7 separate regions of the Homo sapiens genome follow, and regions 1, 2, 3, 5, 6 and 7 are each linked to region 4. Evidence: fine-mapped expression QTL. A gene starts in region 4. Each other region holds a variant in brackets. All regions are shown on one strand. Distances are between the middles of the regions. Region 1 holds the start of LOC124905106 (a long non-coding RNA gene). Region 2 overlaps LINC01643 (long intergenic non-protein coding RNA 1643). Region 3 has its middle 54 kb from the start of LL22NC03-13G6.2. Region 4 holds the start of LARGE1 (LARGE xylosyl- and glucuronyltransferase 1). Region 5 overlaps LARGE1 (LARGE xylosyl- and glucuronyltransferase 1). Region 6 overlaps LARGE1 (LARGE xylosyl- and glucuronyltransferase 1). Region 7 overlaps LARGE1 (LARGE xylosyl- and glucuronyltransferase 1).

The links. PIP is the estimated chance that this variant, and not a neighbour inherited with it, causes the effect.
Region 1: its variant is fine-mapped to the expression of LARGE1 in whole blood (TOPMed, PIP above 0.99).
Region 2: its variant is fine-mapped to the expression of LARGE1 in unexposed skin (GTEx, PIP 0.99).
Region 3: its variant is fine-mapped to the expression of LARGE1 in sun-exposed skin (GTEx, PIP above 0.99).
Region 5: its variant is fine-mapped to the expression of LARGE1 in skeletal muscle (GTEx, PIP 0.92).
Region 6: its variant is fine-mapped to the expression of LARGE1 in whole blood (TOPMed, PIP 0.92).
Region 7: its variant is fine-mapped to the expression of LARGE1 in aorta (GTEx, PIP above 0.99).

What each region holds. Positions count from the first base shown.
Region 1 is chr22:33,219,557-33,224,097 of GRCh38, reverse strand. LOC124905106 (a long non-coding RNA gene) reads left to right here and starts at 2,313. Exons shown (of 2, transcript XR_007068071.1): 1 at 2,313-2,496. It also overlaps a transcript of LARGE1 not described here. The variant G/A (reference allele first, on the strand shown) is at 2,156.
Region 2 is chr22:34,096,848-34,101,388 of GRCh38, reverse strand. The region is part of intron 2 of LINC01643 (long intergenic non-protein coding RNA 1643); the gene reads right to left. Among named protein-coding and RNA genes, the nearest start is that of LINC01643, 82 kb to the right of the region's middle. The variant T/A (reference allele first, on the strand shown) is at 1,913.
Region 3 is chr22:34,262,592-34,267,132 of GRCh38, reverse strand. No RefSeq gene overlaps it. Among named protein-coding and RNA genes, the nearest start is that of LL22NC03-13G6.2, 54 kb to the right of the region's middle. The variant T/C (reference allele first, on the strand shown) is at 2,206.
Region 4 is chr22:33,917,789-33,922,329 of GRCh38, reverse strand. LARGE1 (LARGE xylosyl- and glucuronyltransferase 1) reads left to right here and starts at 1,854. Exons shown (of 15, transcript NM_133642.5): 1 at 1,854-2,335. It overlaps LARGE1-AS1 (LARGE1 antisense RNA 1), which reads right to left and starts at 1,105. Exons shown (of 2, transcript XR_001755630.2): 1 at 807-1,105. RefSeq lists silencers at 987-1,486, 1,807-1,956, 2,227-2,326.
Region 5 is chr22:33,362,832-33,367,372 of GRCh38, reverse strand. All of the region lies in intron 9 of LARGE1 (LARGE xylosyl- and glucuronyltransferase 1), which reads left to right. Among named protein-coding and RNA genes, the nearest start is that of MIR4764, 72 kb to the left of the region's middle. The variant A/G (reference allele first, on the strand shown) is at 1,808.
Region 6 is chr22:33,575,636-33,580,176 of GRCh38, reverse strand. The region is part of intron 5 of LARGE1 (LARGE xylosyl- and glucuronyltransferase 1); the gene reads left to right. All of the region lies in intron 1 of LOC105373007 (a long non-coding RNA gene), which reads right to left. Among named protein-coding and RNA genes, the nearest start is that of SNORA50B, 130 kb to the left of the region's middle. RefSeq lists a silencer at 446-515. The variant A/G (reference allele first, on the strand shown) is at 2,748.
Region 7 is chr22:33,837,625-33,842,165 of GRCh38, reverse strand. All of the region lies in intron 1 of LARGE1 (LARGE xylosyl- and glucuronyltransferase 1), which reads left to right. Among named protein-coding and RNA genes, the nearest start is that of LARGE1, 81 kb to the left of the region's middle. RefSeq lists an enhancer at 206-265. The variant T/C (reference allele first, on the strand shown) is at 1,759.

The DNA of each region.
Region 1 (4,541 bases), 700 kb after region 4:
TAGCTAGGATGGTCTCGATCTCCTGATCTGCCAGTCTCGGCCTCCCAAAGTTCTGGGATTACAAGCGTGAGCCACCGCGCCCATCCTGAGCACTTTCTATGTGCCCCTCACTGTGCTAGGCTGTTGCAGAGCTGGGGGCATAGAGGTGGCTGTGAGCATACGAGGATGCCGACCAATGGTGGGGCTGGGTGAGCATTTGTGAATTGTTTGGGATTGACTGACTGTCCTATAGCAAAAACAAGCTGCAGGGCCAGGTGCTTTGTGACTCTAAGCGGAAGGGTCTGGTACCAGACCTAAAGTAAGATAATGTCAAAGGCTGGTCCAGGCAGAACTTGACATTTTTAGATAAGTGTATAACAAGTACGGTTCCTTGAGTCTAAACCGAGTCATTGACATGCAAGCCTAATCCAGTAGGTGACCTCTGAGGGGCTGAATTGCATGAGGGCTGCTTCTGTTGAACGAGGGAGAGAGAAATGTGGCATATGAGTATCACCTTTTTCCCTAATATGGTATAAGAACCATCACTTACTGACCACAGGACAGATTGGGCACCACACAACACTGGAGGGCGTCATTCTCATCTTAGGCATTGCTTGCACCTGAATTGTGGCGATTCCAGGCAGATGAAAGTAAACTCTCTGGTTCTATCCCAATCAGCCTACTATAACCATTTTCTAGTAGATGGAAGTAAAGTATCTTGAAGAAAAGGTGCCTATAGCAAATGCACAGGCCAATCCCTGAAATGCCCAATTGGCAGGCACCACGTGAGGTATCACGGTTTTTTTAAATCTGGATGTTGCCTACCATCAAATTCTTGGCTCATTTTCTGCTCAAGCTTCTGCCTTGCCCCTTTGACTTATTTCAAGGCTTTAGGAAGCGAACGAATAACAGTCTACTTTCTCCACCTGAGAGGCCAAAGAATCAGGCAGATAGAGATGAAACTATCACCGTTATTATGAATGATACTGGAGTAAAGTGGGTCAGCCTGTTGGAAAGCGATCTTGCTAACTAACCCTGAATAAGGCACGTTTATTCATCCAGCTGCTGGCACAACTTCACACCCATGCGTCTCCCCTGATAGGGGCAGGCTCTTTACAACACGTAAGCGAGCAGGTGAGAAAAAGGGTGCAGGTAGGCAGACCCCATTTAGGGGAGACTGGGGGGGCCTGCAACTCTGTAGTTTAAGTCATGTTGCTCCCTCTGGGGAAAAAGTCCAGGAACATTACTCAAATGGAGGCCCCTCTAGGTGTGAATGAGGTACCCTAGGGTTGCGGTAACAAATTGCCAAAAAACCAGGTGCCAAAACCAACAGGTATTTATTCTATTGCAGTCTGGAGGCCAAAAGTCCCAAATCAAAGTGTGGGCAAGACCATGATCCCCTTGAAGGCTCTACTCCTTGCCTCTTCCAGTTTCTGGTGGCTCTAGGGTTCCTGGGCTTGTGGCTGCTCATTCCAGTTTCTGCCTCTGTCTTCACATGGTCTTCTCCTCCTGTGTGTGAGTCTCCTCTTCCGACTCTTACAACATCACTTGCTATTGGACTGAGAGCTTACCCGGATAATCGAGGATAATGTCATCTCGAGGTCCTTAACTTAATTACATTGCAAAGACCTTTTCTCCAAAGAAGGTCACATTTGCACATTTTGGGAATTAGGATATAGACATATTTTTTGTGGGGGGGCACCATTCAACATGCTGCAATATGAAAACATGAAGAATGGAGGATAAATGCTCTCCCCCAAGGCCCTTCTTTCTCAGCAGTGCAGACCCCAGGCTCATGCTGGTAACCCTCCCTTCTAGACCCCTCACCCCTAACCCTGGCTGTCTCTCCTGTTGGAGCACTCAGGTGCAGCACCCTGGAGGCACAGAAAGGTCCTACGCAGTGGTGACCACCAACTTCTCTGCCCTTTTTCTTTTTTCTTAGATGTATTTTAAGTATCGTGTTCGAAATGATTCCTTGGTGAGTCCTTCCCTTGTCACCCAACCCACATGCTGGCTAGAGCTAAGGCTTTAGTGGAAATAGAGAGAAATTACATTTTAATGCTCCAGAAAGAGGTAGGAAGGAAAAGAGAGGGAGGGAGAAAAATGGCAAAGAGCCAGCAGAATTAAGTGGAACAAGCTGAGGGGCCAGTGAAAATGTTTAGTTGATATGTAGCCC[G/A]CCCATAGATATTTTAAGAAGGGGGAGGACTGTGGTGTTCTTATTGCTGTCATATAAACCTCCTTTCCCTTTTAAAATCTTTAGTAAAGACTTTAGTGTTCACAGATGATTGGTGGGGCTGGTTCCTATTTGGTGAGTGGAGGTTTCAGGAAGTTTCATATCTGGGTCAACCCAAAGCCCAGAAAAGAGGCAGTCCACAATGAGTCAGTATCCAGGAAGTAGAGGCGGGAATGGAAAAGGAAGATTCCAAGAATTTTCAAAAACACAAGAAAAGAGCTTTGGACTTCCACAGGCCATGGACTGGGGAGAGGTATAAGCCGATATAAATCCATCTTTTGGGGGTAAGGAGATATCCATCTAAAAGCTGGGTTACATTTTTTCTAGTCGTTTTTCCTCAGTTATTGAAATAAATGCAAATTTCCTTTGATGACTCAACATTTGCTTGATTTTTAAATTCCAGAATAGTGACCTTGAAGATGTATACCCAGTTTTAAATAACTTGCATCTTTTTAATGCTAAGAAGCAGCAAAATTTTTGACTTAAAACTATGTCCCAACCTTTACTCAGCAGGTGGTCCCTTGCAGAAGAATATCAGGATTGGCAGGAGAGAGAGAATTGAGATACGGAAAAAAACCGGCACAGGCATTTCCCCTCGATGTTTGTAATTGACCTTGCTAGAGATGTACACAGCACTAAATTTGTAATCAGAATCGTGTGTGGAAATAGCCTTTTGCTTAATTCCTTTGTGTTATTCCCTCTCTCTCTCTCTCTCTTTTTAACAACGGCAAGGTATTAAGCTGAAGATAGAAGGACATTATAATTTTATAAGTTTCTTAATGATAGGAGGATGTCTGCTTTTGCCGTCAGGTGTGTCTGGGGAGGGTGTGCTGAGGGGGAAACCCAGGAATCTTCCTGTGGGGGTCCCACAGGAATCTTCCCTGACCTTCCAGTTTCTCAGGGCCTCATTCCTGTGGGAGTGAGAAAGAGAGGGAGGAATGGGGAAATCAGAGCCCAGAATCCTTGCTCTAACCATGCAAGGCCGAATCTCTGTCCCCTGCATAGCAAGGGATTACATGCAACTGTTTATCCGAGAGAGTGCACATGAAGGATTCAGCTGAAAGCTCTTCCAGGAGATGGTAGGAGAGGGAGGAGGGCAGCCAGCATGGGCTGATAAAGGTACAAGATTCAGAGATTGATTCCTTTTCTGTGCTGCATCCTCTGTTGAACACACCAGACTCCCAGTAGTCAATGGGCAGCTTCAGCGCCGTGCTCAGGCAATTTAAAACTTTCTAAGATTATCCCTCAATACCTGTTCCAGGCTCAGAGGAGAGAAGAAACAGGGTCACTGACAATTTTTATGGATCAGGAAAGTGAAAAGCTGACGTACAAGCTTTCTTCAAATGAAAAAGGAGGGAGGTAGAATCTATTTTTTTCCCCTTTCACTCCACCCTGTTCTTTTATCTGTCTCTATATTCACTCTGCTCTTTCCCCCTCGTATGCTGACTCTCCATTTCCCTCTGTCTTTAGTCTTTTTGCTTGTTTATTTTTCTGTTCTTCTTTGATTTTTTTCACGTTTTAAACAACTGCTAAAGCAAAAACCAAAGCTGACAAAACAGCAAACATATATTGTTTTATTACCTAGCCTCCGAGCTTCTAACAGTATGAGCATAATATCTCTCCCTAGAGAGATGGTCATTTTGAGAAAATGGCTTGAGCTGGCAGCAAACTCAGTAAATTTCATTCCTCCTGAGCTGTGCGTGACCTCACAAATCCAAAGGTGACCTTTCTTTGTCCTCTTCCATTAAGATAGGTTAGCGGTTCTCACAGGAGCCCTCTGCAGCGGAATTCAGGATTGAATCAAATTCACCATCCGTTGTATTATCCCAGCAGTTATCAGCCCTTGTAGAATGCTACAACAAAAATCAAGGTTAGAGTGGACTTTTATGAGAAAGTATTTTTCTTTTCTTTTCTTTTTTTCTCTCTTCTCAGGACTAAGGCTGTGTGAGGGGAGGATTCCAGGTCCTTTATGAGAGAAATTGTTGGGAACAAACTGTCCCTTGTGACAGTGGGGGAGTTTGACCTTCATTGTTGCTCTCCATTTCAAACTAATTACCTGCTCCGTGGGCAGGCTGGGCAATAAATCCACCAGGCATGGCGTCTGAGTTCTGGCAGCTTCAAAGTGAGGCTTCAGCATCATGAATAGTAGAGGGTCACTTCTGGCAATGGTTGAACACCTTTCTGACTCAAGAATGAATCCTGAGGGATGCTGTCCAATAGGATTTAAGGAATCAGCACTGGATTTAGGATCCAGAAGAGATGGAAAGTTTGGGGTCCCTTTCCACAGAAATGCCCTATTGGCTCACACTTTTGTTCATTCACCTATGCA
Region 2 (4,541 bases), 180 kb before region 4:
CTCTGTCACCCAGGCTGCAGTGCAGTGGCATGATCTTGGCTCACTGCAACCTCAGCCTCCCAGGTTCAGACGATTTTCCTGCTTCACCCTCCCGAGTAGCTGGGATTACAGGCACCCACCACCACACTCGGCTAATTTTTTTTTTTTTTTTTTCATAGAGACGGGTTTCACCATGTTGACCAGGCTGGTCTTGAACTCCTGACCTCAGGTGATCCGCCTGCCTTGGCTTCCCAAAGTGCTGGGATTACAGGCGTGAGCCACTGTGCCTGGCCACTTGTTTGGTTCTTACCATCCAGTCCCCAGCTCAGAGAAGTCTTCCTGGACCCTGTTGAAAGTAGCCTCTTCCACCAGCCAAGTCTTTTATTTGTTCTATTTCCTCCATGACATCTATCAGTGTCTGCAATTATTTTGTTCACTTAGGGTTCTACTTACTTATTTCTACTTACTTATTTCCACCACCAGCATATAAATTTGTTGAAACAGACACACTGTCTGTATTGTACCCCTCTGTATCCCCAGGCTCCAAACAATGCCTGGCATAGAGTAGAAATTCAACAAATATGCATTGCATGAATGAATGCTTGCAGGAATTAATGAATGGTGGTGGTAATACAGCCTCATGGTTAGAACTACAGGCTTCAAAACCTGACATCTTTGAGTATGAATTCTGGATTGAACATTTAGTAGTTACCTGAACACAGGCAAGTCAGTGAACTGCTCAAAGCCTCATTTTCTTCCTTTGTAAAACAGGGTCAAATATAGTATTTATCTCGTAAGGTGGTTATGAGAATTCAATGAGAACAACACTGGCCAAGTACTAAGCACAGTGGCTGGCACATAACCTCAGCAAATGGGCATTACAATTATCCTCCTATTTTCCCCTATTCTGTAATACTCTTCCTACTATTGCCAATTAATGGAAACTACAATTCTTTTTTCTATCTTACCTATAGAAAGTCTTCCTGAGGAGACTCTGGTCTAATTGATTCTTTCTCTATTGCCATATTGAAGTTCCATCTGCTTGCAAATTACTGTAGAATAAGAATAGAATGACAATTTAGTTAGCATCTACTATGCTCAGGCATTTGATATATACTGGATTATCTCTTTCACCCACATGGAACTCTGCCAGGGGGAAGAGCAGACAGTGGCAATTGTGCCGTGATATCTGTTTGAAACGCTTGTTCTTCAGTGCTGTAAAGAAATAGCACTTGAACATAAATCTCAGCAAAGCTATTTTTATACTTTCTGCAGAAAGGGTACACTCACCAGCAGTTTTGCCATGAGAGTACACTGAACAAAGGAGACAGGGTCATTTATAACCTGACGCTTCCACCTTACTGCTGTGTCCGGTTTCTACTGGCTGGAATGGGACCTCACATTCTGTATTTGCCTTGATTGGCTAGCAACTTAGAACTTTTTAAAAGAGGCAAAGGCAGGGGAGAACAAAGGAAGGAGGAAGTAACTTGTGGAATGCTGAGAAAGGTAAAAACACCTTCAGATAAGGAAGAGGAACAGGCTATGACTTAATGCTTGCTTGGACTAGTATAAGCATGCCAGGGCAAATATTTAGGCTAAATTGTGGGAGCTAAGAACATAAAGCACATCGATTTCTTTATTATGGCTAGCAGATATTTAAGAATATTAGCACAGGTCTTTGAATAAATTTTGCTTTTAAGAGAAGTTGCTATTTATTCCTAATTAGACTGGGAGGAAAGTCTTTGAAGAGGAACCTCTACTTTATTTTTCATGTATCCATTCTACCTTCTTTTTTAGTGATAGAGTCATAATTGCTTGGGGAAGGAGGAGCAAAGAGAACATTTCTCGGACTCCCTGGCAGTCAGTTGTGGCCATGAGACTAAGCTGTGGCCAATTAGATAAAAGCAGAAGGAAACTGGTTCAGCAGGAAAAC[T/A]AGCCTATATTTGTCCTTTCCCCCACCCCACCCACACAGTTCCTGCAACCTAGAATGTGGAGGTGGGGGTAGGGATGGTCCTTAAAGGTAGCTTGAATCTTGAGGTGAACATGAGGATGGATGAACATGAGGATGGTGGGGCAGAAAAATAAAAGAAACTTGCACACTAGCCCTAGAATCCCTACCTACACACTACATTTCTGGGAGAAATAAAAACCGCATTTCTATTTCATTCAAGTCAGTGGTATCTGAGCTTTTCTATGATAAGTAGCAAACCCTAATCCTAACCTTTACTATAGGCATCATAAGCCCATGGTATTAATGAAGACTTGGAACTCAGGAAGAGTGAATAATTTGTCCAAGATTACACAGCTAAAAAGCCACCAACCTGGTATTTGAATGTTGATGAACTTCATTCTAATAAACAAGTTTTTTCCATTAATCCTGCAAGTTAGGTCTCAATTCAGGGCAGAAAGGATCTCAGAGGGGTTTACCTCCAACCCTCAGGCAATAGGGAATCCTTTCTCCAGCATCCCTGAAGACCACCCCAGCCTCAGGCTTAATGGCCTCTGGGGACATAAAACTCATGACTCACTGTTCAATCCTTTATTTATTTATTTATTTATTTATTTATTTATTTATTTATTTTTGAGATGAAGTGTCTCTTTGTTGCCCAGGCTGGAGTGCAGTGGCACGACTCCAGCTCACTGCAACCTCTGCCTCTCAGGTTCAAGCAATTCTCCTGCCTCAGCCTCCTGAATAGCTGGGACTGCAGGCACATGCCACCACACCTGGCTAATTTTTGTATTTTTAGTAGAGACTGGGTTTCACCATATTGGTCAGGCTGCTCTCAAACTCCTGACCTCAGGCAATCCACCCACCTCGGCCTCCCAAAGTGCTGGGATTACAGGTGTGAGCCACCGCGCCCGGTCCTCAATCCTTCATTTTTCAGAAAGCTCTTCTTTGATGTAACAGCTGAAATTGACTTTTTTTATAATGTCCACGCCATAATTGTGAACTTTCAAACCAGTGAGACCTTGTGGTGTCCACTTGGCTCTTCAAACCTTTCAGGACAGCCTTCAGGTGTCTCTTGGTCTTCTGTATGCCAACTACAATGAATCCTCATTCATTCATAACACAGAGGAGGGATGCTTATGTGCCAAACACTGGGCTATGCACTGAGGCAGATGTGCTGGCTGACCTCAAGGAGTTTGTAGTCTAACGGGACTCCCTAAAAGGGCGTGGTCTCTTTTGGTCCCATTTAACTGTGCCAATTTCTTTCGGAAGAATGGTTCTTATGAGTAGTGTTTCCAATTATGGGGAGATAGACTCATAAACTTAGATTCTTTGTGTCCACCTATCTTAGCCCCTTTATATTTTCTTTTCTTTTATTCTCATCATACTCCCCCTGGAGAACTCAATCGTGCCTGGAATTTCAGTGGTAACCTAAACGCCAACCAATCCCAGGCCTTTATCTCTAAACTCTCTCTTAGGCTCCAGACTCAAATGTAAAGGTCTAATTGTCAACTCCACCTTGATATACTGCAAACCCCTCAAATGCAGTAAGTCCAAAGCTGAATCCATCGTCTCTCTCCCTGCCTCCCTTCTGCCTCCAATGCAGCCTCTCCTCCTGCACTCTCTGCTCTGGTTAATGTTACTGTGATCTATGCCATTTTCTAACCTCGCATGATCCCTTCCTCTAGCTTACACTCCACTTTCTTCCCTGCCATTCTCTTATAAATTCCCCACATCCCTCCCCACCTCCACGGCCACTGTTGAGTCCTGCATCATCATTTATCCAAACAATTCCAATAAACCCCCTGGCTAACCTTCCTGTTCCTGATGAAAACCCTGTACATTTCAATCTAACCTACACACTATCAGCATTGACCTCTTTAAATCAAACACTGGCTATAGCACCTATTACTTAAAAGCCTTCCATGCAACATGCCTGCTTATCAACTGCGAATGCTGTGGCCATAAAATGACCTCACCAATCAGGCTTCAATTTATGTTTCCAGCTTCATCTCTTCCCACTTCCCTGATCCAATTTTTGTTTGTTTGTTTGTTTCTGAGACGGAGTCTCGTGATCTTGGCTCACTGCAACCTCTGCCTCCTGGGTTCAAGTGATTCTCCTGCCTCAGCCTCCCAAGTAGCTGGGATTACATGCACCTCCCATGCCCGGCTAATTTTGTGTTTTTAGTAGAGACGGGGGTTTTGCCATGTTGGTCAGGCTGGTCTTGAACTCATGACCTCAGGTGACCTACCTGCCTCGGCCTCCCAAAGTGCTGGGATTACAGGCATGAGCCACCGCGCCTGGCCCCCAGTCCAAATTCTATACACTGAACCCCAGCTACAGGAAACGGCTCCCTGCTTTCCAACATGTCACATGCTTTTCTGACCCTGTGTCTTCCCTCTTCCTCTTCCTGCTGGTCCCTCTTTGGTAAAATGAAGTCTTCCCCAGTCACCAGGCTGAGCTTTGTCACTGCCTGTGTACTCCCTAGCTGATTGCACAACCTCTTCTAAAATCTTGCCACATGATCATAGAATGCTTGTTATATGACAGACTTTGTGACTATAAGGTCATGGGGGGGGCAATGATTACTTCTTACACACCTCTACATGCTCA
Region 3 (4,541 bases), 340 kb before region 4:
ATGGTTACAAAAGACATCAAAAATTTATCATTTGCTTATCACAATCTAATAGAAATTATTTTTAAGCCACTTCCCAGACAGTGCAAAGGTAGAAGTATTTTATATCTATTTAACTCACTTGCATTTTGTATTACTGTTGTCACATATTCTACATAGAGCTTAAGCCCTAAGTATTATTCTTTTATTTTATTGATTTATATGTTTAAATCTTCATTTTTTCATTTACATACATATTTACTTTTTCTGTTGCTTTTCATTTCTTCTTTAATTCTGTGCTATTCTGAGAATATTTTCTCCTACATGAAGACATTTGGTATTTCATTTAACATGGGTAAGATGGTAATAAATTCAGCTTTAATTGAAAATGTCTATTTCACTTTAATTTTTGCTCTGAGCAGAAATTTAAGTTGGCAGTTATTTTAGCACTTTGAAATTTGTCTTCCGAACTCTGTCATTTCTATTGAGACACAAGTTTTCTTACTGATGCTCTTTTGAATGTAATGTGTCTCTTTGGCTACCTTAAAAGTTTTCTATTTGTCTTTGGTTTTCAACTAACTTACTATAATGTACCTACATGTGTTTTCTTTATATTTATTAATCTAGAGATCTGTTAAACACCTATAATCTGTGACTTAAGTTTGTCATTCATCAGTTTAGAGAAATTCTCAGCTAATATCTATCTATATATGTATAATATATATCTATATATGTATATATGTATATATCTATATATGTATATATATCTATATATGTATATCTATCTATATATGGATATATGTATATCTATCTATATATGGATATATGTATATATATCTATATATGGATATATGTATATCCATATCCGTATATGTATATGTATATCCATATCCATATATACATATGTATATGTATATATCAATATATCTATATGTGTATATATCTATATATCTATATATGTATATATATCGATATCTATGTATATATATCTATATCTATATATATCTATATATATTTTTTTTTTTTGAGACAGAGTCTTGCTCTGTCGCCCAGGCTGGAGTGCAGTGATGCAATCTGGGCTCACTACAAGCTCTGCCTCCTGGTTTCACACCATTCTCCTGCCTCAGCCTCCAGAGTAGCTGGGACTACAGGTGCCTGCCACCATGCCCGGCTAATTTTTGTTGTATTTTTAGTACAGACAGGGTTTCACCATGTTAGCCAGGACGGTCTTGATCTCCTGACCTCGTGATCCACCCGCCTCAGCCTCCCAAAGTGCTGGGATTACAGGCATGAGCCACCATGCCCGGCCGCTAATATCTCTTCAAATATTGTTTCTGCTTTATTCTTTCTCACCTCTATTCTGTGATTTCCCTTATACATGTTAGCCTTTTTCACTCCTGTATTGTATATTTTGCATTTTTTTCTGCATACCCCCATTAATTTTTCTCTTCATGCTCGTCTGGATTTTTTTAAAATAGATCATCATTATAGTCTTTCTTTGCTCCCATCTAATCTACAGTTAAACCAAGTAATCAAATTCTAAACTTTAGTTACTGCATTTGTGTATTCTAAAATTTTAATTTGTTATTTTTCTGGTTCCCAGGTCTATGATGAAAATTTCCAATTTGCCTAAATCTTTGAGCATGTTAGTATTCTTAAAGTCCATTTTTAATAACTTTAGTATCTATATCTCCTGTGCGTATCTTTTCATTATTGGTTTTTCTCTTGTTTTGTCTTCTAGTACACTTGGTAATATTTTATCGAATGCTGTTTTCCATTATTTTTAATGGGGGCTCTGAAAAATATTTTTTCTAAAGAGAGGATGTTATTTTATTTGTAATTGGCAACAAGGGTAAAGAGAGATCATCTCTGTTCTTATTTTATAAAGGATTTTGTAAAGGCTAGTCTATTTCCAGTTTTCTTTCTAGCAGAAGGCAGCCCTTCAGGATTTTTTTTTTAAGTCTCACTCTGCCATGTAGGCTGGAGTGCAGTGGCGCAATCTTGGCTCACTGCAACCTCTGCCTCCTGGGTTCAAGCAATTCTCCTGCCTCAGCCTCCTGAGTAGCTGGGATTACAGGTGCACACCACCACGCCTGGCTAATTTTTTTGCATTTTTAGTAGAGACAGGGTTTCACCATGTTGACCAGGATGGTCTTGATCTCCTGACCTCATGATCCACCCACCTCGGCCTCCCGAAGTGCTGGGATTAGAGGCATGAGCTACCGTGCC[T/C]GGCCACGATTCTTAATTAAAATTTATTTGTCTGGTTTCCAGTTCTATGATGAAAATTTTCAATTCATCTAAATTTTTGAGCATGTTAATATTTTTAAAGTCCATTTTTAATAACTGTAGTCTCTTTTTTAAATTAAAAATCCTGAACGGCTGCCTACTACTAGTGTGGTTTCTCCCTGATGAATCCTAAAAGTCTAATTATTTTCCCCCTCTATGTCCATGAGATGGGTGGAAGCTTTGCCTGTCTATGCAGACTTCTAACCACCACTTTTTGCTCAGCCTCTCAAGTCCCTCTTTTGAATCAGCAAATGTTACAGGGAAAAGTAGCACCCAAAGTCAGGTTGACTTCTCTCTGGAATCTTGACCCCTCAAGTCTTAGCTGTCTTGATAGCTCTCCAGTTCCTTCTTATTTTTGTCCAGTTTTTCTTCTTGTTCTTGGAGGGTTCATCTGAACAAGCTAATTCATATTTGCCAAAAGTAGAAATTCCAACTGTTATCACAGGAAGTCCCCTCTCCCCTTAATAGTGTGTTTCTTAATGGCATAGTGGCACCAACCCACCACTCTTTCACCATTTTAATGTCTAACACTTTGTGTCTCATTCAAAGCTCTTCCCTGTTTCAGAGCAGCCTAAGCTACAAGTGGGGTGGTGGGGAGAAATCCTCTATTTTACCTTGCTTCTTCCCCGAGTATCCTCTGGTGTTAAGCTAGCAGGAGAAACAAGGAGACAGAAGTGTCATTACATGAAGGCATATACCATAGTGAGTTGGCAGGTCTTTTTCTGTCAATAGCCTCTGCTCCTTGACATTGATGGGCTTAAGGATTCTTTGTGTAACAGTCATCAAAATACTGACTCTTTCATGAAAAACACTTGTTGGTTAATCACCAGCCCTGTGGGTCTCCAAACCCTAAATACATACACCATCTTGGAGAATGAAAGACCTAGATCAAGTTTGTGCTTTCCACCTTCCCAATCCCTAATACCACTGATATACTACATAAACTTTTTGTTCGTTTGTTTGTTTGTTTTTTTGAGATGGAGTCTCGCTCTGTCACCCAGGCTGGAGTGCAGTGGTGTAATCTCGGCTCACTGCAACCTCCACATCCCAGGTTTAAGCAATTCTCCTGCCTCAGCTTCCCCAGTGGCTGGGACTACAGGCTAGATTCCCTTCATCTAGACCTCAGTCTTACTGAGCACGAATTTAGCAAAACAGCTCAAGCCCAGTTGGCTTCTGGGGTTTCTTTTCAATCCATACGAAACTTATATATCTTATCCATGCCAAATAGTAGACTATGGAACTGCCTTGTTGGAGGAGAGAATAAGGCTGATTTTAATCAGCTCTGCCATCTCTCTCCTGTTTCTTTCTCTTAATCCCAACATTAGTAAACATTCTACAGATCCAGCGGCACTATAAAATTTCTAGGAGAGTTGTACTAGACCCCAGGGCAGAGGACAGAGGTGTCAGTATGGATATATCGACACTCTCCTTTGTCCCTCTGGTTTGAATGGAGAAGTGAAGTAATGAGCAATGGGAGAAAGCCTCTCTTCATAAGCAGTTTTCTCCCCAGAGCAGCTTGTCTCATTTGCAGCCCTCATCTAATATTGACTGTCTGAGGACTCTAGTGGGTGAGAGCTACGGACAGTGTCTAAACTGGTGCCTTGTAGTTAGCCCTCTGATATGGGGGCTGATATCAACTGATGGCAGTTTTGTTAAGTTGCAATATGTGATACTTATCTTCTTTACTCAGTTTTGGACCTTAGCCAAAATTCTAGAAGAATAGGAAAAACCCTGCTTGACACCCTTAGAATAGCAATTGTTATTAATAACACATAGGAAAATACAATACATATTATATTAAGCATGCTTCAAATACTTTGCAGTTCAACCTCTACCTTAATTTAATCTTTATAACCACCCTATGAGGAAGATACTATAGTAGTCCTCCCTTATCCACAGTTTCACTTTCCATGGTTTGTTACCTCTGGTCAACCATACTCCAAAAATATTAAATGGAAAATTCCAGAAATAAACAATTCTTAAGTTTTAAATTGCATGCTGTTCTGGTAGTGTAATGAAATCATAGGCCATCCTGCTTGAGTCATGAATTATCTCAGTTTACAGCATATCTGTGTTGTATACACTACTTGAATTAGCCACTTAATAGCCATCTCAGTTATCAGATTGACTGCCAGGGTATCACACTGTTTGTACTTACGTAACCCTTATTTTACTTAATAATGGATATAAAGTGCAAGAGTACTGTGCTTAATTTATAATTTAAACTTTATCATGGATATGTATACACAAGAAAAAACATAGTAAATATAAGGTTCTAG
Region 4 (4,541 bases):
CCAGGTCCGGAGCCAAGCAGGGGCCAAGCCTCCGAAGCCCTTGCCGCCCCACCCCCCCAGCCCGACCTCGAGGAGTGGGGTCAGCTGGGCAACCCAAGCTCGGCGGCCCTTTCCCGCGCGCCCCCTCCCCAGCCCATCCTTCCCCTGCCCCTTCCAAGAACTAGGGTGGGCTTCCCGCTGCCTCGCTCGAGTCCTGGAGAGCGGAGAGGCGCGCAGAGGGAAGGCAAAGACCCGGCGGCCCGCCCGGCTGGGGAGAGGTGGAGACCCGGGGGGAAGGGGACCCCAGAAGCCCTGGGACCGAGCTGCGGAAAAACCCGGGAGCTGGATCGCGCGCCCGGAGCTCCGGTCTCCGAGTCCGAGTTGTGCAGCTCTCGGCGTCCTCTTTCTCTCCCTGCCTCTCTGCTTTCGCCTCCTCTGGGTCTTCTCTCGAGGGCATCCTCCTTCCATCCATTCTCACACCCCCGCTCCTGTGCCCCGACCCATTTCACCCACTTCTCCTGTGGCTCGGGAGGACTCTCCGTACCCCCACCCTGGTCCCTAGAACTGGGAGGCTGGAAGTCCATTCAAGGGATGTTGCGCGCCGGGTTCTTATGCCAAGAGGGAAAGAGCGAGAATAAAATCAGCAGGGGAGGGGCGTGTTGTGCGTGCATGGGGTGTGTGTTTGGGGTGGAGGAAAAAGAAATGTAGTTTCCTCAGAGGAAGAGGAAGCCTTGGACAGGATTCTTGGATACCGATCCCAGAAAGATGCCGTCAGAGCCCTTCGGCGGGGCTCCTCACAGACTCCGGCTGCCCCACAGCATGCCCACCTCCGAGAGAAGCTGCGACCCGAGGCGGGGAAACTTCCTACTTCTCACGACGGCTGTTTTGTGCAATTTGGGGAGCAGGCTGCATGGTCCTGCAAGCCTGCGAGCCTCTCTACCACGGCAGCTGCGGGCCCGTCCCGCTTCCCTTCCCCCTTTTTCCGCGAGGCACGCCAAGCCCGAGGCGGCCGGGAGCCGCCGGGGTTGGGGGAAGAAGGGCGGGGAGCTCCCAGCTTGCACCCTTTCATCCCGACCCGGCCCGGGATCCCGGCTCCGGGTGTTGCTTCCGCCTGCCTGCCAGCCAGCGAGCTGAAGAAGCACCGGGGCGGAGTCTCGCCGGGGGGCGGAGCCTGTGCGGGGGCGAACTCTCGGTCCGCGCGGCTGCGGCGCTTGCCATTGGCCGGCCGCTCGGTCACGGGGTCGGGGGCGGGCGCCGACGCGGGCGCCGGCCCCGCCCCCGCTCGGAACCCAGCCCCGGCTCGCGGTCCCCCCCGGCTGCACAGACATGACACAGACACACAGTCACTGCAGCTGCTGAGCGAGTCCGGCGCTCTGGGCACGCGGAGGCGGCGGGGCCAGCCCGGAGCCCGGACCCCAGCGCCCGCCCCTGCCGGTTCCCGCGCGGCGGCCCACTCCTGGCCGGGCGCGGGAGGCGGGGATCGCGCGCCGGCTCCGGCCAGCGGCGCCCGGCTGCCCGCGGCGGCTGCAGCGGCCGCCCAGCTCCGAGCGCCGGGCGCTCCGGGAAGCCGGCGCATCTCGGAGGCGGCGGCGGCGGCCAAGGCCGGCGAGCGCTCCCGGCGGCGGGGGCCGCCCGCCTCGGCTCCCCGCACCCACCGCGCCGCGATCCACTCGCCGCGCCTCCGCTCCCGTGACCTTCCCGGGGCGCCTCCCCTAGCCCCGCGCCCCCGGCCCCGCGCCCCAGGCCGGGGCGAGGCCTTTTCCGGCGCTTCTTTCCCGCGGAGCCGCGGGCGGGCGGCGCAGGCCCTGGGGGAGAGCGCGCCGCGGCCGGTTGCAGCCCCCCCCGCGCCGCCGCGTTCGGCGCCCGGCCCGGCCAGTCTGCTCCTGCCCCGCCGCCGCGCCGGAGCCCGGGCGCCCGAAGCTGGGGGCGCGGCCGCGCTCGTCTCGCCGGGCTGTTCGCGGGCAGGCCCTGCCCTGAAGGGACGAATCGGCTTGGAGCGCGGGAGGTGGAGTCGGCCCCGGCGGTCGCTCCCTGGACCCAACCCGAGGCTGACCCAGGCCCCTGCCCATGCGGGGCGCCCCTGGCTCGGAAGAGTCCCCCGGGCCGGGAGCAGCTCCAGGCAGCGGCCCCGGAGGAAGAGGAAGAAGGGACAGTGCTCAGCTTGGGGGACCCGGACCCTCGCCGCGGCATTTGGAGCCGGGGGCAGTCCCGAACTCTGTGCTTGGCACCGCCGCTCCGAGTAGGGCAGCGCCTGCCGGGACCCTGACCCGGACCCCCTGCGCCTCGTAGGCGGCGGCGCCGCCGCGCCACCCTGTTCTTCCGTGTCTCCCTCTGCCTGGCGGCAGTCACGGCCAAGGTAAGAGCCCCGGAGCGCGAGAGTCGCCGCGGGGGCGCCGTGGTGTGTAGCGCCGGACAAGTTCTCCGAACCTGTGGCTGGTACCCCCTGTACTCGGGATGCCGGCGGGGAGGCCGGGCACACCCTCTGCTGCCCCGGCCGGGAGCCCTGGAGAGGCTGGAGGTGGAAGCCCCCAGTCTCCGAAGTCCCCAGGACCCCCTCAGGGCCTGCTCGGCTTCTGGGCACACAGGCTGCTGGCAGGGAGCGAGCCAGGAGGAGTTTCTGGTTAACACCACGAGGGCATGTGACCGATACCCGCACCCCCGGCCCTCTTGTTAGCGGTGAGCACCTGTGGTTCGCGGAGCCTGCCGTGTTTGGAGAGGGCCCTGTTGGGCGGTACGCAACTACCTTTCGTGGTGTGATGCTGTGAATAACTTTTCTTGTTCCTTCTTGCAGACAGTCCTGCGCAATTTGGGGGCGAGCAGCCACAGCTTGCGAGTCCCTCTTTAGGACAGAGTGGTTGGTTGGCATTGCTATCTGTAGGGGGGAAGCCCAGCCAGCATGTCCTTCCTGTTAGTCAAAGCTGCTTGTGAGGAGTGATCAGTGTATAGCTATCCAGACATTCTTGTAAATGTCACTGCTTTTGAAGTTTTGGAGTGAGGACTCCAAAGTTTGTGTATCCTCAAGTTATTTTGTTCATTGCCTTATCCTCTTTTAAATGTTCCTCTTAAGGAACCTCAGTTGTACAAGCCTGTCCTTGCCTGTTTGAAATTTATTAAACCTGTGAGCTTCCCCCAGAACAATCTGATTTTAAATGGGTCACTTCGGAGGGAACAGATTGTCTCTTGCACACTGAATCCATCCCTTGGGTGACCCTGTTTAATGGGGTTGGACTCTTTTTTTTTTTTTTTTTCGTCTCTGTGCTGATGTGCCTCGGTTGAGCAGGTTTCTGCTGAATTCAGAATCCGTGAATTTTGTCACTCAGTCCATTAAAATGATCTCCTGAGGGAGCAAAATAGCAGCTTACATTTTTCGTGAATGTCACTGGAAGTTTTACAGGGTCTTATGTAAGTGCCCAGAGAGAGAGAGAGAGGAGGGAGTGGGGGGAGATCAGGCTCCTGCTTCCTTCAAGGGGAGAAACGGAGGGGGTGGCAGGTGGGGGCGTCCGCCTCCCTGACATGCAGATGCCTTTCTTCTCTGACACAGGTGTGGAGACCTGAAGTGCTTATCATTCCGTGGAGGCAGTCACCTCGGGTTAATTTTTCTTCTCACTTCTCCTGTCTTCCCACCTCAGGAGTCAGCTTTGATAGACTTAAGATAAGGAAAGCTTCTAAATTAAGAAGGGAACAAGTGGTGGTTGTTTCTTCTCCCATCCCTCACAAATGGGTGACATGAATGAATTACTCACTGGCACGCTTGGTCCTCCCTAGGGGTAAAAATAAAAGAAATAAAAACGCCAGCTTTAAGATTTCACACATCTCTTAGTGTACCTTTATTGTTCAAGAGTACTTTAGTGAAAATTGCTTGTGGAGAACACATTTATCGAGCCTGTCCCTGTTAATTCCATACCAGGAAGAAAACTCACTCGAACAGAGAGGCAAAAATCACCAAGATTTAGAGGTTAGTGGGTTTTCAAGAGTGGCGAGGAAAGGAATCAAATCCCCCTGGCAGGAGAGAGAGGTTTTTAACGGGAAGATCGGATTGCTCTGGAGTGAGCAGTAGCTGCTGACAAGTGTGGGCCCTCCTGCTTCACTTAATGAAGTGTGCTGGGGTGTGGATTAACTTTTTGATGTGAGCCAATGCAGATTCCTTTGGCTTTTAAACCATACCTGGAAGGGCCTTAGAAATGAAATGAAAGGTTTTTTTCATCTCATCATAGGTCTCGGAAGTGCTTCCATCTCTTGGGAAGGTTGTGACGAAGGTTTCCTTTGTTTCTGGGTTCCTGAGCTGCGCTTTAAAGTTGATGCACAGTGCAGGGAGGGTGCGTCCTGTAGTGTCGCCATCCTTCAGCCACCTACAGTAGCAGGACACTAGGGGGGACTAGTTATCTTTTCCACCATCGAAGAAGAAAACACCAGGGCCCATGTTACTGTGGTTTATCTTGAGGGTTCATGAGCCTGTGGTTTATGTTGAGGGTTCGTGAGACTGTGGTTTATCTTGAGGGTTCCTGAGATGAACTTTTTGGGATCTAGTACATGCTTGCACTAGTGAGTGGATTCTGAGTGCC
Region 5 (4,541 bases), 550 kb after region 4:
CAAATTGATCAATAAAGTCAAAAGTTTGAAAGGGACCAATAAAATAGACAAACCTATGGCGAGACTCATCAAGAAAAAAGAAAGTGAACTCACCAAGAAATGAATAGGGGCACCTAATTCCAGATCCACTTACTCATTCTCTCATTGTTTTTGAGCAAGTGACTTCTGAGTTCTAGATATACAGCAAAGATAAAGCAAACAGTCTCAGTTGGTGGAGCTTTCAATCAATTAGCAGAATTGAAAAAAAAAATAGAATACTGTGAACAACATTATGTGAACAAATTTGAGAATTTTTGTTAAATGGACAAATTCCTAGAAATGTGTTACTTACCAAAACCGATTTAAGAAAAAAGTATAAAGTTTAGATTATCTTCTAGCCATTAAACCTTTTTAAAACAGTACCCCTAGACGGCAAGTAGAAATAAGTTCTACCAATTTTTTTTAATCCAAGGACATTTCCAATTTTAAATAAACTTTTCTAGAGAATATGAAAAGAGGAACACTTTTTAACCCATTCAGCAAAGCCAGGATATTATCAACACCAAAATCAGACAAAAAAAAAGTGCATTAGTCTGTTCTCATGCTGTTAATAAAGACATACTCGAGACTGAAACTAGGTAATTTATAAAGGAAAGAGGTGTAATTGACTCACAGTTCCACAGGGCTGGGGAGGCCTCACAATCATGGCGGAAGACGAAAGAGAAGCAAAGTCACGTCACAAAGACAGGAAGATTGCAAGCCAGTCTCACTCATGAATATAGATGCAAAAATCTTAAGCAAAATATTTAGCAAACCAAATCTAGCCATGTATAAAATAGATAATATATCATTGCCAAGTTGGGTTTGTTCCAGGAAAGACAAGAGTGATTTAGCATTGAAAAATCCACGTGTCATTCAGCATGTTAATAGATTAAAGGAGAAATACCAAATAATCATATAAACAGATGAAGGAAAGTTATTTGACAAAATTACGTGCTCATTCATGATAAAAACTCTCATAAATAGTAACTAGTGAAAACCTACAGTAAACTATTGCTGAGCATTTGCTCAGGGCCGTGCAATTAGTTGGAAAGAGGAGAGCGTGCAAGAGCACACACACATTTATGAAAGCATTTTGGTATATGAAGAGGCAACATACCTGATCATTGAAGAAATGATTAAGTTTTCCATAAACTGTGCTGAGACACCTGATTATCCACATGGAAAAAATTTAAGTGGATCCCTGTCTCATACCATGCATAAAATTAATTCCAGACGGATTAGAAACTTAGAAAGTGAAGGGCCAAATTAAACTTTTATTTTTTAAATGAAAAGGGAAACTGGCCTTAAGACTTCAGAATGGAGAAGTATGTATTCAACAAGACATCAAAAACGCATACCATAAATGAATGAATCCGTAAATTTAATCACATTGATATCAATAACTCAATCAAACAGGCATTAAAAAGAGAAAAGCAGGCCAGGTGCAGTGGCTCACGCCTGTAATCCCAGCACATTGGGAGGCCAAGGCAGGTGCCTCACTTGAGCTCAGGAGTTCGATACCAGCCTGGCCAACATGTGAAACCCCATCTCTACTAAAAATACAAAAATTAGCCAGACGTGGTGGCGCATGCCTGTAGTCCCAGCTACTCAGGAGGCTAAGGCAGGAGAATTTCTTGAGCCCGGGAGGTGGAGAGGTTGCAGTGAGCCGAGATTGTGCCACTGCACTCCAGCCTAGGCAACAGAGCAAGACTCCATCTCAAAAAAAAAAAAAAAAGAGAGAAAAGCAAAAGATACTTCAACACATGTAACTGACAAGAGAGCACTA[A/G]ACAAAATATATAAGCAACTCTTAATATTGAATGATAAATCTGTAAAACATGTAAACAGTCCTTTCACTTGGTTGCCAGGCAAATGGCCAATAAACACATGAAAAGATATATAGCCTCGCTGTTCATCAGGGAAGTGAAAATTAAGACCACAAATAATTTTATAGCCACCAAATTGGAAGAGTGATACTATCAAGTCTCAGTTGACCAGTGGTCTGTTATGTCACCCATAGGAGTGTGTATGGATACACCAAATTGGAAAACACTTTGGCACTATATTGAAAAATTGAAGTGGAATATACCTTACAATCTGGGTCTTGGATGTAATAGGTCACAAATGGAGAAGTGGATGACTTTCTAAAGAAAGTCAGGTTCAGCCATCAGTGAGCGAATTACAACAGATAGAAGTAGTGCTTTGGAAGGCCTGTGTCCTCCTGATGAATGACATTTCTTGACCAGGCAGGGCACAGGAGACTTCTAAACTCTCAAGTCTTTTTATATCAAAAATAAAAACATAAAAATAAGTACAACTAAAAACTTTGGCAGGCCTTGAAAAGGGATAAAATTCTGAAGGTCAGGCATGGTGGTTCATGCCAGTAATCTCAGCACTTTGGGAGGCTGAGGCAGGTGGATTGCTTGAGCCCAGGAGTTTGAGACCAGCCTAGGCAACATAGTAAGACCCCCGTCTCTACAAAAAATAAAAAATTAGCCGGCATGGTGGCATGTGCCTGTAGTCTCAGCTACTTGGGTGGCTGCGGTGGGACGTTTGCATGAACCCAGGAGGCAGAGGATGCAGTGACCTGTGATTGTGCCACTGCACTCCAACCTGGGCAACAAAACAAAAAACTGACATATGCTATAACTTGGATGAACTTTGAGGACATTATGCTTAGTGACCTAAGCCAAACACAAAAGGACAAATACTGTATTATTTAACTTAAATGACTTATGTAAAGTGGCATGAAACATGCTACTTAAAATGGCATGCAATTTAAAATATGAATTATTTCTGGAATCTTCCATTTAATATTTTCAGACAGTGGTTGACCTCTGGTAACTGAAGTGGAGAAAAGCAAAACCCCGAGTAAGGAGAGGCTGTTGTACTCCCAAGGGAAGAACATAAAAAACAGCAATTAGGAGGTCCTTCGTAAACGCGGAACGGGATTGAAAAAACAAAAGATGGGAGGAAGCGGAGAAAAAGAATGAAAATAGGCCGGACACAGTGGCTCACGCCTGTAATCCCAGCACTTTGGGAGGCCGAGGCGGGCGGATCACGAGGTCAGGAGATGGAGACCATCCTGGCTAACACGGTGAAACCCCGTCTCTACTAAAAATACAAAGAAAAATTAGCCGGGCGTGGTGGCGGGCGCCTGTAGTCCCAGCTACTCGGGAGGCTGAGGCAGGAGAATGGCGTGAACCCGGGGGGCGGAGTTTGCAGTGAGCCGAGATTGCGCCACTGCACTCCAGCCTGGGCGACAGAGCGAGACTCCGTCTCAAAAAAAAAAAAATATATAGCAAAGATGCACTTTGACCAGGACTCTGAGACCCAGATTGGCCTGGTGGGACAGACGGTGTTCTTGGGTCATCCCTGAGGGCTCCACAGAAATGTCCAGGCACCAAGAGGACCCAGAGGGTCTCACCATCCCGCTCAGTCCCACCCGGGAGGTGAATCATCCCTTCATCCAGCATCTCCATGCTGTCTGCACTACTGGCCTGTGAATCACTTAGTAGCCATCTCAGTTATCAGATTGACTCTCTGGGATCGCAATGCTTGTGTTCAAGTCGCCCTAATTTTACTTCGTCATGGCTCCAAAGTGCAAAAGCAGTGGTGCTGACGTATTATAATTATTCAGTTTTATTATAATTTATTGTTATTAATCTTTCACTGTGCCTAATTATGAGTTAAACTAATCATAAGTATGTATGTATAGGAAAAAACATGGTATGGAGTTAGGTACGTGATACGGTTTGGCTGTATCACCACCCAAACCTCATCTTGAATTGTAGCCCCCATAATCCCCATGTGTTGTGGGAGGAACCCAGTGGGAGTTACGTAATTGAATCACGGGGGTGATTTTCCCCATACTGTTCTTGTGGCAGTGAATAAGTCTCATGAGATCTGATGGTTTTATAAGGGGTTTCCCTTTTCCCTTGGGTCTCATTCTTTCTCTTGCCTGTTGCCAATGTAAGCCATGCCTTTCACCTTCCACCATGATTGTGAGGCCTCCCCAGCCACACGGAACTGTGAGTTCTCCATTAAACCTCTTTTTCTTTATAAATTACCCAGTCTTGGGTATGTCTTTATCAGCAGCGTGAAAACGGACTTATACAGCACTATTGCATGGTTTCAGGCAACCATTCTGGGTTTTGGAATGTGTGCAGATACTACTGTAGACAGGGGGACCCTGCCTCTCCTGGTCTCCCTCAGCTCACACTCTGCTACTCCAAAGGAGAGTCAACCTGAGCAGCCCCCTGTGGGAAAAGCGGGAGCCCCATGCTGGGTCAGATGATTGAAAATGTCATTTAAAGCGAGAATCATAAAAATATTTTAACCTTGATTTGCTTTCTTTTCATCCACAGGCCAGGTTTTTTGATCTGCTAATTGAGTGCTGTATTATCTTGCATAAACCACCCTCATGCATCTTCTGTGGTTATCGGTGTCCTTTCATTCAAAGTGAAACAAGAACTTAAGGACTCTTCCAAAACAATTGGAGGACGGTCCTGGGTTAGTTCTAT
Region 6 (4,541 bases), 340 kb after region 4:
GTGGTCTCAAACTCCCGAGCTCAGGTGATCTGCCCCCCTTGGCCTCCCAAAGTGTTGGAATTACAGGCGTGAGCCACTGCGCCCGGCCGCCTTGTGTCTGCTTTACAGATGCAAAACCTGAAATTCAGAGAAGGGAATTGCCACACTCCAGCTTGTATTGAAGACAGTGCTCGTGCCATCATTCCATGTTGCTTCCAGATCAAGGACGCTTAAATATTCCCAGGGGATTAAAAAATATGTATACTATGTAGGAACTCAGCAATTCTGTGCAAACAGAAAATAAAGTTACAGAGCTGTGCTATTAAGTTGGGTCTTGATCTTCCGCAGTTAGAATTAATTGATTGGCTCACTTCCCAATTGTTGTGTACCTCAGGCTTGATTGCACCTAAGAATCACTTGGTACTGTTGGTAACACAAAACAACACCACCAAAACAATGCTAGGGGCCACTCTGGATGACACTTTAGCATGGCTTGTGTTCCAAACCCAAACAAGCAGCAATGCCAGGCCCTACCACTAGATGTCATAGTTTAGTTTTTCTGGGGTAGGCCCAGTAGTGCGCCCATGTAATTCCAAAGTGTGGCCAGCCCTGGGCTGGGGCTGCAGCAGGTCTTTATCAGTGTCCTGAAGGAGGACATCCAGGCTCCACTTGGCTCCTGCTCAGGACCCTCCGTAATGTACAAATGCTAACCGTTAGTTTTAGAAGGCTGAGACTTTCCCTGGCACACTGTATTAGTCCGTTTTCATGGTGCTGATAAAGATATACCCAAGACTGGACAATTTACAAAAGAAAGAGATTTAACTGGACTTAAAATTCCGCGTGGCTGGGGATGCCTCACAATCATGGTGGAAGGCAAGGAGGAGCAAGTCCCATCTTACATGGATGGCAGCAGGCAAAGAGAGAGCTTGTGCAGGGGAACTCCTCTTTTTAAAACCATCAGATCTCATGAGACTTACTCACTGTCACAAGAACAGCACGGGAAAGACTTGCCCCCATGATTCAATTACCTCCCACCAGGTCCCTCCCACAACACCTGGGAATTCAAGATGAGATTTGGGTGGGGACACAGCCAAACCATATCACACACTCTAAAGTACAGAAGTTAAAAATCCATTGTAACAATCTTCCTGGGTCTGGACATATGTTTCCAAGCTTCCCTTCCTGCTTTGTATTTTGGTGTTAACAGCTTTCTCAGTAGAGCGTTACTGGCCACTTGCAGTCCTTTAGAGATTGGAGAAACATTTGTTCTGAGAAGGTGTATGACTCTATTATAACTGCATTGGAATGTTTGTTTCTGCTAACAGTATGAGCTCAATCTAGTAGTCACCTTTGTCTTTCCTGATTTTACTTCCCATTTCTGAGTACAATTAATTTTGCTATGTTCTAAGAATGTTGGTAAGAATTTATATACAGATTTCACTGTGTAATAATCATGTGAGTATCATATTTGAATCCATTTCCAAAAACGATTAAGGTTTTTGGAAAGAGGCAAATCTGATTTTTAATCCCAGCTCCTATAATTCATTATAATTGGGTGATTTCCTTGATGTCTACATCACACACAGTAATAAAGGTTATTGGGTGAATTAAAAGATACTTGTAAATTGCTTTAGTATACTGTCTGTTACATAGTAAGCATTCAACAAATGCGATTGTTATTATAAACATAATAATATTTTCTCCCATTTAATGGTGATCTTCTAAGAAAGAGGAACATTTTTCATTTACTCCTCTTTCCTTAGTATCTAGTACAGAATTTGGCACACACAATGAGTGTTTAGATAAATGACTCACTTTCGGAATTAGGTGATTTTTTTAAAGGGGATTTAGAGCATTAGGAATTCCTTTGATCAGTAGCCAAATCCCCAAGTGGAAGTAAAGGCACAATGGAATTACCTTGTACCTTGTACCGTCTTCTATACTACTTTTTAAGGGTGACATTTTTCCCTTCTGCATTCTCATGTATGATAAATTCTAAATCTAGAAAGGTTAGACAGCCATCCTCACAATCTGGTTGCCTTGACAACCATCATATTAAACAGTAAAGGCCTGTTGTTGGCGGGGGGAGGTGAATGTCAATATTACCACGGTCTAAATCTTCTGAAGCAGGGCTTGAAGGTCAAGGTTAAAAGTATTCAAAATTGCAATAAGACCTTTGGTTAATGTTTGTTAGATGTATTACAAGAGCTGAGTGAAGCCATCATCTTTTCAGGGTGACCAGTGAAGAGATTCATTTTGGCTGTCAGCCAGAAGACATTTGGACTGCCATTGACAAGGTTTTCCTTTTACTACACCAAGAGACTTTTGCCTTCTATGTGTGGTGAAAGAAAACAGTTTTTAAACCAATCAGAAATTAATAAAGGGACAACTCTGGATCATCCTCCTCAACTGTCTTTGCCTGCTTGTAAGTTGCTGTCCGTGTGTTTAAACTCACCTGCAAGGTGTATCTCCGCAGCTAGTAACAGAGATTGTCACAGGCAAGGGTGTCACCTACAAAGTGCTAAAGAGCCCTCTGAAAATGAAAAGCAAAGTGCCTCATTAATGTAGAGCAGTGTGGGGCTTCTTTAATTGCAGCCTATGTGGCTGCCCTTTTTAGATGGCTCCATGGGAAGGCGGAGGTAAGAGTGGAAGAAGGTATGGTTGTGAGAGCGAGAGAAATTGCTCCCCAAATATCCAGATGAACTTGACAACAGAGAAGTGTGTTTTCTGATTCAGCTGCCTTCTGATTAAATTCAGAAAGGCAAGAA[A/G]GAACTGTTGGATTCAGCAGAGGCTAAGATCGGGGAGCAGGTTTTTGAGATGTGTATGCGTGTGCTTTTGCATACTTCTCTGTTTTGTGGCTATTTTAGTGTTGTAAGATCCTGGAGGGTGGTGTTTCTTAACCTCTTTTTAAATATTATCACTCCCCTCTCCTATGTGCCTTTTTATACTTTTTATTTCCCTGATTAAACCTCTAACATGAGATTTTAATACCAAACCATTGGAATATCTTATTTTTTTTTGATCCCCACAAGAACCAACTTTTGTGTCTGTTAAGAATGCATGCAGTAGAGTAAATTTATGGTAACAGAAACAAAATCTTTTTTTCCACTTGCGTTTAATAGCAGAGTGATTATCTCTCTTCTTAGCACTTTGAACAGGAATGAAATATAACTAAATACACCACGCATACATAGTCACCTATCTATATCTGTGGGTTCTGTATTCTTGGGTTCAACCCACCAAGACTTGACAGTATTCAGGGGAAAAGAATAGATGGGTTACACCTGAACTGAACATTTATGGATATTTATTTTCTTTTCAGTATGCTCTAAACAATACTGTATAACAGCCATTTACATAGTATTTACATTGCATTAGGTATTAATAAGCACTCTAGGGATGATTTAAAGTATATGGGAGGATATACCTATGTTATATGCAAATACTACACTTATTTACATCAGGGGACTTGTGCACCTGAGGATTTTGGTATCCTTGAGGGTGCTGGAACCAATCCTCCACAGATAGAGAGGGTATGTATACACACACATGTTTATCCATGTGCTTTCGCGGTGATATCTGTATATATGAGCATATTCACATACATAGGAAGACTACAGATAGACAGGTTATGGCATACCCTGATAAAGCACCGTGTCATCTAACTTAAAACTAGAACAATAGCACCAAAGCCACCTGGATATCTTCACCATCCCATGCCCCACCTCCCTCACTCCCACCTCCTGTCAGGGTAAACCACCACCCTGACAGCTGTGACCATCCTTTCTGAAATTATTTGTTATGTCTCCCCAAACTGCACTGTTATTTCCTCAAAGCAATCATCTGGCACAGAGCTTTACACTTAGAAGTCGCTGAAGTGTTGAATGAATGAATGAACGAAGCAGGTGCATCAGTATATCCCCATCAGAAGCAATGGTTCTCAATAAGTGTTTTCTGTGTAAATGCATTGTTTCACTTTTTCAAAACTATTCATTGAGTGCCTTCTATGTGTCAGACACTGTGCTAAGTCTACATACATAAATACATACTGTGCACGGTAATAAGAATTGCAGCTTCTAAAATTATTAAGATCAGGCTACGCAGCAGCTAATGCAATTTTCTCCTCAGTGCATTGAAAAATCTATTAGTGAAGAAGGCAGCTATATTTCAGGAAATTAAGCCACTGTAACAGTCCAGTTCACAAATCAGAATTCCCAGTGCTTTGAAATGCTCCATTTCATAACATAAAGTACTGAAGGATGTTCAGGCAGTCTGTAAATGCTCCAGTGACCAATCCCCTCAAGCTTCGCAAAGCTAAATAGAGGATGCTTCTTGCTGGGCGATGAGAGAGGAAGGGGTTTTGTGCCACCGATAGGAGGAGGGACGTGTCTGTAGATCCACGATCACATTCCCCTTGGTTCACTTCTCCTTTGTCATCATTCTGGAATTATTTATGTTTGCAGAAGATGGTTGCTTAGTAGACTTCTGAATAATGAGCATTTTTAGGTGCAAGCCAGCTAATCTTATTTTGGGCTAGGGTTGTATGTCTGAATAAATGTTCA
Region 7 (4,541 bases), 80 kb after region 4:
AGCTTTTCGATTTTACTTTTGAGTACAGTGTTCTGACTTTCTAGATGGTAAGGAACCATTTAGAACTATAAAGGGATTTCGATTTCGATAACAGTAACTGTGTTTAATGTTACAAACTTTCTATTTTGTAAGTGGCTTTCTTTGAAGTCCTGTTGGCAGTTTGTTAAATATTTTAGACTGTTATTTGTGACCAAGAGGTTCAGTTTGGAGGACTTTTTGTGATTCACCCGTGTGCTTTAAAATAATTTGCCACTATTTTTGGAGTACTCGGTCCCAGGAGATTTGTGCATGAGTCCTGATTTTGTCTCTTAGTAGCAGTGTGACTCAGGGCAAGTCACATAGCCTGTGCTGAGGATCTCTTGGCTTTCTGACTTTGTATTTATTCACCCTGCTTAGTTTTCCCAGGGAGACCCACACTCACACCCACCCTTTAGCCCATGGACTTTGGTGGAGATGATATTGTGCAGGGCTTCAGGGGGAGACATAGGACTCAGATTATTCCTAATACTGGCTTATAGTAATTGGCTTAGAGGTGGTTTCATGACCTAGTTGGAGCCCACAAGATGTGATGAGGCTTTTGTTGGGGCTGTTGAGAGGTATGTGTGTTCTTTCCCACTGGCCTTGAACTCAGAGGTTGGAGCTGCGGATATTGTAGCTACATCCAACCTAGTAGCTGTCTTGCTACTGCATGGCATCTGAGTATGAAGTCCGTGTGGATGAGAGCAGAGCTGAGGTGGAGAGGGACCAGGCCATCTCCTGGACCCAGATCAAACCTTGCCACAGGGTAGATTCACCTCTGGACCTTACAGATTGTGAACTATTCAGTCCTTTATTTTGCCTGCATTAGTTTGAGTTGGATTTTCTGTCACTTTCATTGGAAAGCTCCCTCAAAAACTCTGAAACATTTTTTGTACATTTGTAAGAGGAAAAAAAAATGAGAGTAACAGAACAGACGCACCTTGGCTTAGCATAGATTGCATCCTGCTAAACCCATCGTAAGTTGAAAATATCAAGTTCAAAATTTGCGTTTAATACATTTAACCTACATTACAGCATAGTTTAGCTTAGCCTGCCTTAAACATGCTCACTTTCATTGGCCTGTATTTGGGCAAAATCATGCAACCTAAGCCTAGGTATATTAAATACTGTACTGAAAATGAAAAACAGAATGGTTATATGGGTACTCAAGTATAGTTTCTATTGAATGCATATTGCTTTTGCATCATCATAAAGCTGGAAAGTCATCCAGGTGCAGTGGCTCACGCCTGTAATCCCAGCACTTTGGGAGGCTGAGGCGGGTGGATCACTTGAGCCCAGGAGTTCGAGACCAGCCTGGGCAACGTGACGAAACCTTGTCTGTATAAAAACTAGAAAAATTAGATGGTCATGGTAGCATGTGCCTGGGGAGTTTAGGCTGCAGTGAGCCGTGATCACGCCACTGTGCTCCAGCCTGGGTGACTGAGCGAGACCCTTTCCCAGAAAAAAAAAAAGCTGAAAAATCTAAGTCGAATTATCCTAAATCGGGGACTGTCTGTACTTACCTTATATCTAGGGTTGCTGTAAAGATGAAGGAGGGCAATAGATCCAATAGTACTTTAAAAGTGGTAAAATACTAGATATTTGCAAGAAAAGATGCTAGAACCTTTCACACCAAATTTTGACTGTGTGAGAAATAAATCAACAATGTAGTTTCACAGCTCCAAGCTAATAGAGATTAAACTATATTACTCTCAGTATTTTGCCAAAGTGAGTTGGTCT[T/C]CAAAAATAGTTTTAAAAGAATGTATGTATAAAAAGTTTTTAAAGACAGGAAGTAAAACTGCAACAGGATTTCTTATTCATTTTTATGACCATTTTTGTCTTTTAAAAACTAGGTCCCTTTTTATGCATGGATTCTATTATTTTTCCTAGATTTTACAGTGAGGGGATGTGCATTTTCTTGAGGGGGTGCCGATTTGGTGCAGTGCTGCTTTGCATATATTATTAAATCAAATAGTTTTATAATTGAATATGAAGTAGGGCAAAATCCTAAACCTAGTTAGTATGGGTGTGCATTTCCTGCGTATTCATTTTCCTGTGTTGGTTTACATAGTTTCTTACCACCTTCAATTCGGAGGCATTTTAGAGGCATTTTCTCTAATGATCTGGCCCATAGATCGTTTCATAAGTAAATGGGATCAGCAGGGTTTTATGTCTCCTACAGCAGAAGGTGCCTGGGCTTTAGGGTTGAATGCATCTGGGTTTGAAGCCTGGAGCCCCCACGTTTCCTGGGTCCAGGTGATCTTCTCTGGAACAATGAGGGGCATAGTTCATTGTAGTAGGCATGCATGAAAGTTAGATGAGGTGACGCAAGTCAAAGTGCCTCATACCTGGTAGGTAGTTAATAATCGCTTTTCTTATTTTTTTATTTCATGTAAACGTGTGATTTGAAGGCAGTCAGTCTGTCTCTAGGGAAATTAAGAATTTTAGCAAAGAATCAATTGGTCCCCATAGCATTCATATTTTAACTGTTCAGGCTACTAAATCTTATTCTCACTAGTTGTTCTGTTTTTGTGATCTATACAGGCTGCGGTAGAATGAGAATGTTCTCTATTGGCATGCTAACATATGGTCACTTATTTGTTCAGTTATTTATTTGTTTGTTCCAACATATGTGTAAATGGGGATCTTCTCTGCCAGGGGTTGAGGAAAACATGCTTTTTTCTCGCTGATATGGTTTGGATGTTTGTCTCCTCCAAATCTCATGTTGCAGTGAAATCCACAGTGTTGGAGATGGGGCTGGTGGAAGGTAATTAGATCATGGGGACTGATTCCTCATGAATGGGTTAGCACTGACCCCTTGGTGATGAAACAGTTCTTACTCATGAGAAATCTGGTTGTTTAAAAGAATCTGAGACCTCCTCCCTCTTTCTTGCTCCCACTTTTGTCATGTGACGTGTCTGCTCCTCTTTTACCTCCCACCATGATTGTAAGTTTCCTGAGGCCCTCTCCAGAAGTGCAGAAGATGTGGGTGCTATGCTTCTTGTACAAGCCTGCAGAACCATGAGCCAGTTAAACCTCTTTTCTTTATAAGTTACTCAGCCTCAGGAATTTCTTTCTAGCGATGCAAAAATGAACTAATATCCTAAATTATTTCTTGACTTTTTGGTGGGTCTATGGACTGGGCTATTTCTGAAGCCACTGTTTAGGTAAAAGCATTGGTTTCTATCAGAAATTCTACATTCACTTCCTCTCCTGGCAAAGGTTTTTCTATTATGGGAGTAGTTCATTCCTTTCATTTTTTTCCTCCCTGATATAAACAAAAAACGTGGAGAGCCGTCACGGGTAAGATGGATTGGATTAATTCTGCAGACACAATCAGGGAGACCCAGGAGCCTTTGGGGGAGTGAGGGAGATGAACATCATCTCAGGAAGAACTTTTAACCTCTGGAACTCCCCACCAGTAGGACGGACTGTTCCAGAACGCAGTGGTGATCTACTGCCAAAGATGTTTTATTAGGATAGAAATCGCTAAAGGACAATTATTTATTTATTTATTTATTTTGCTGGGGACAGGGTGGAGTGCAGTGGCACAATCATAGCTCACACTGCAGCCTCAAACTCTTGGGCTCAAGTGATCCTCCTGCCTCAGCCTCCCAAGTAGCTGGGACTGCAGGCATGCTCAACAACATCCAGCTAATCTTTAAACTTTTTGTAGAGATGGGGTCTTGCCCTGTTGCTCAGGCTGGTCTCAAACTCTTGGCCTAAAGGAATCTTCCCATCTTGGCCTCCCAAAGTGCTGGGAATACAGGCATGAGCCACTACACCTGTCCAATTTTTTAAAACACATTTTTTGAGATCCTAGTGGCTGTATGAGTCACTGAAGATTGAATAGACGAGATTTCAGCAGCCATAGTCCCCACATAGAATGTCAGAAGCTTGAAGTTCCATGTTACTAGAGATTGTGTAGGGGTAATGATTGAGAGCAAGAGTCTGCATTCTGTGGGCCAGTCTGTCTTCCTTTAGCCCATGAGCTAAGAATGGCTTTTACATGTTTAAAGTGTCCAAAAAAATCAAAACAAGAGTACTGTTCTGTAGCACGTGAAAATTAAATTTCACTGTCCATAAATTAAGTTTTCTTGGCACACAACCATGCCTGTTTCCTCTTATCTGTGGTTGCTTTCCTACTACAGTGATTGCGAGTTGCCAGAGAGAAAGTATGGCATGCAGAGCTTACGTGATTTACTATCTCACCTTACACATAAAAATTTTGCTGGCCCGTGTTCTAAAGTAGAATATCCTCAACTTTCCCACCCTGAAACTTTGTGGAAAATGATAATGTTTGTTCAGTGTACTGGGATAAGTGGAAGATATCTTGCTGGCCTGGGGCTGAAGGCACCACCTTAGCACACCTGAGGCTCATTTGGGGCAGAGCCTCTTGAAGTTCTCATTGAGAGCCGGCTCTGGCCATAGGCTTCAGCCCTACCTGCAGCTGTTTGATACGAACACACTCACCTGGGTCAGCTCTTCTTCCGAGGCATCCTGAAGATGCCTCATGGACTCAG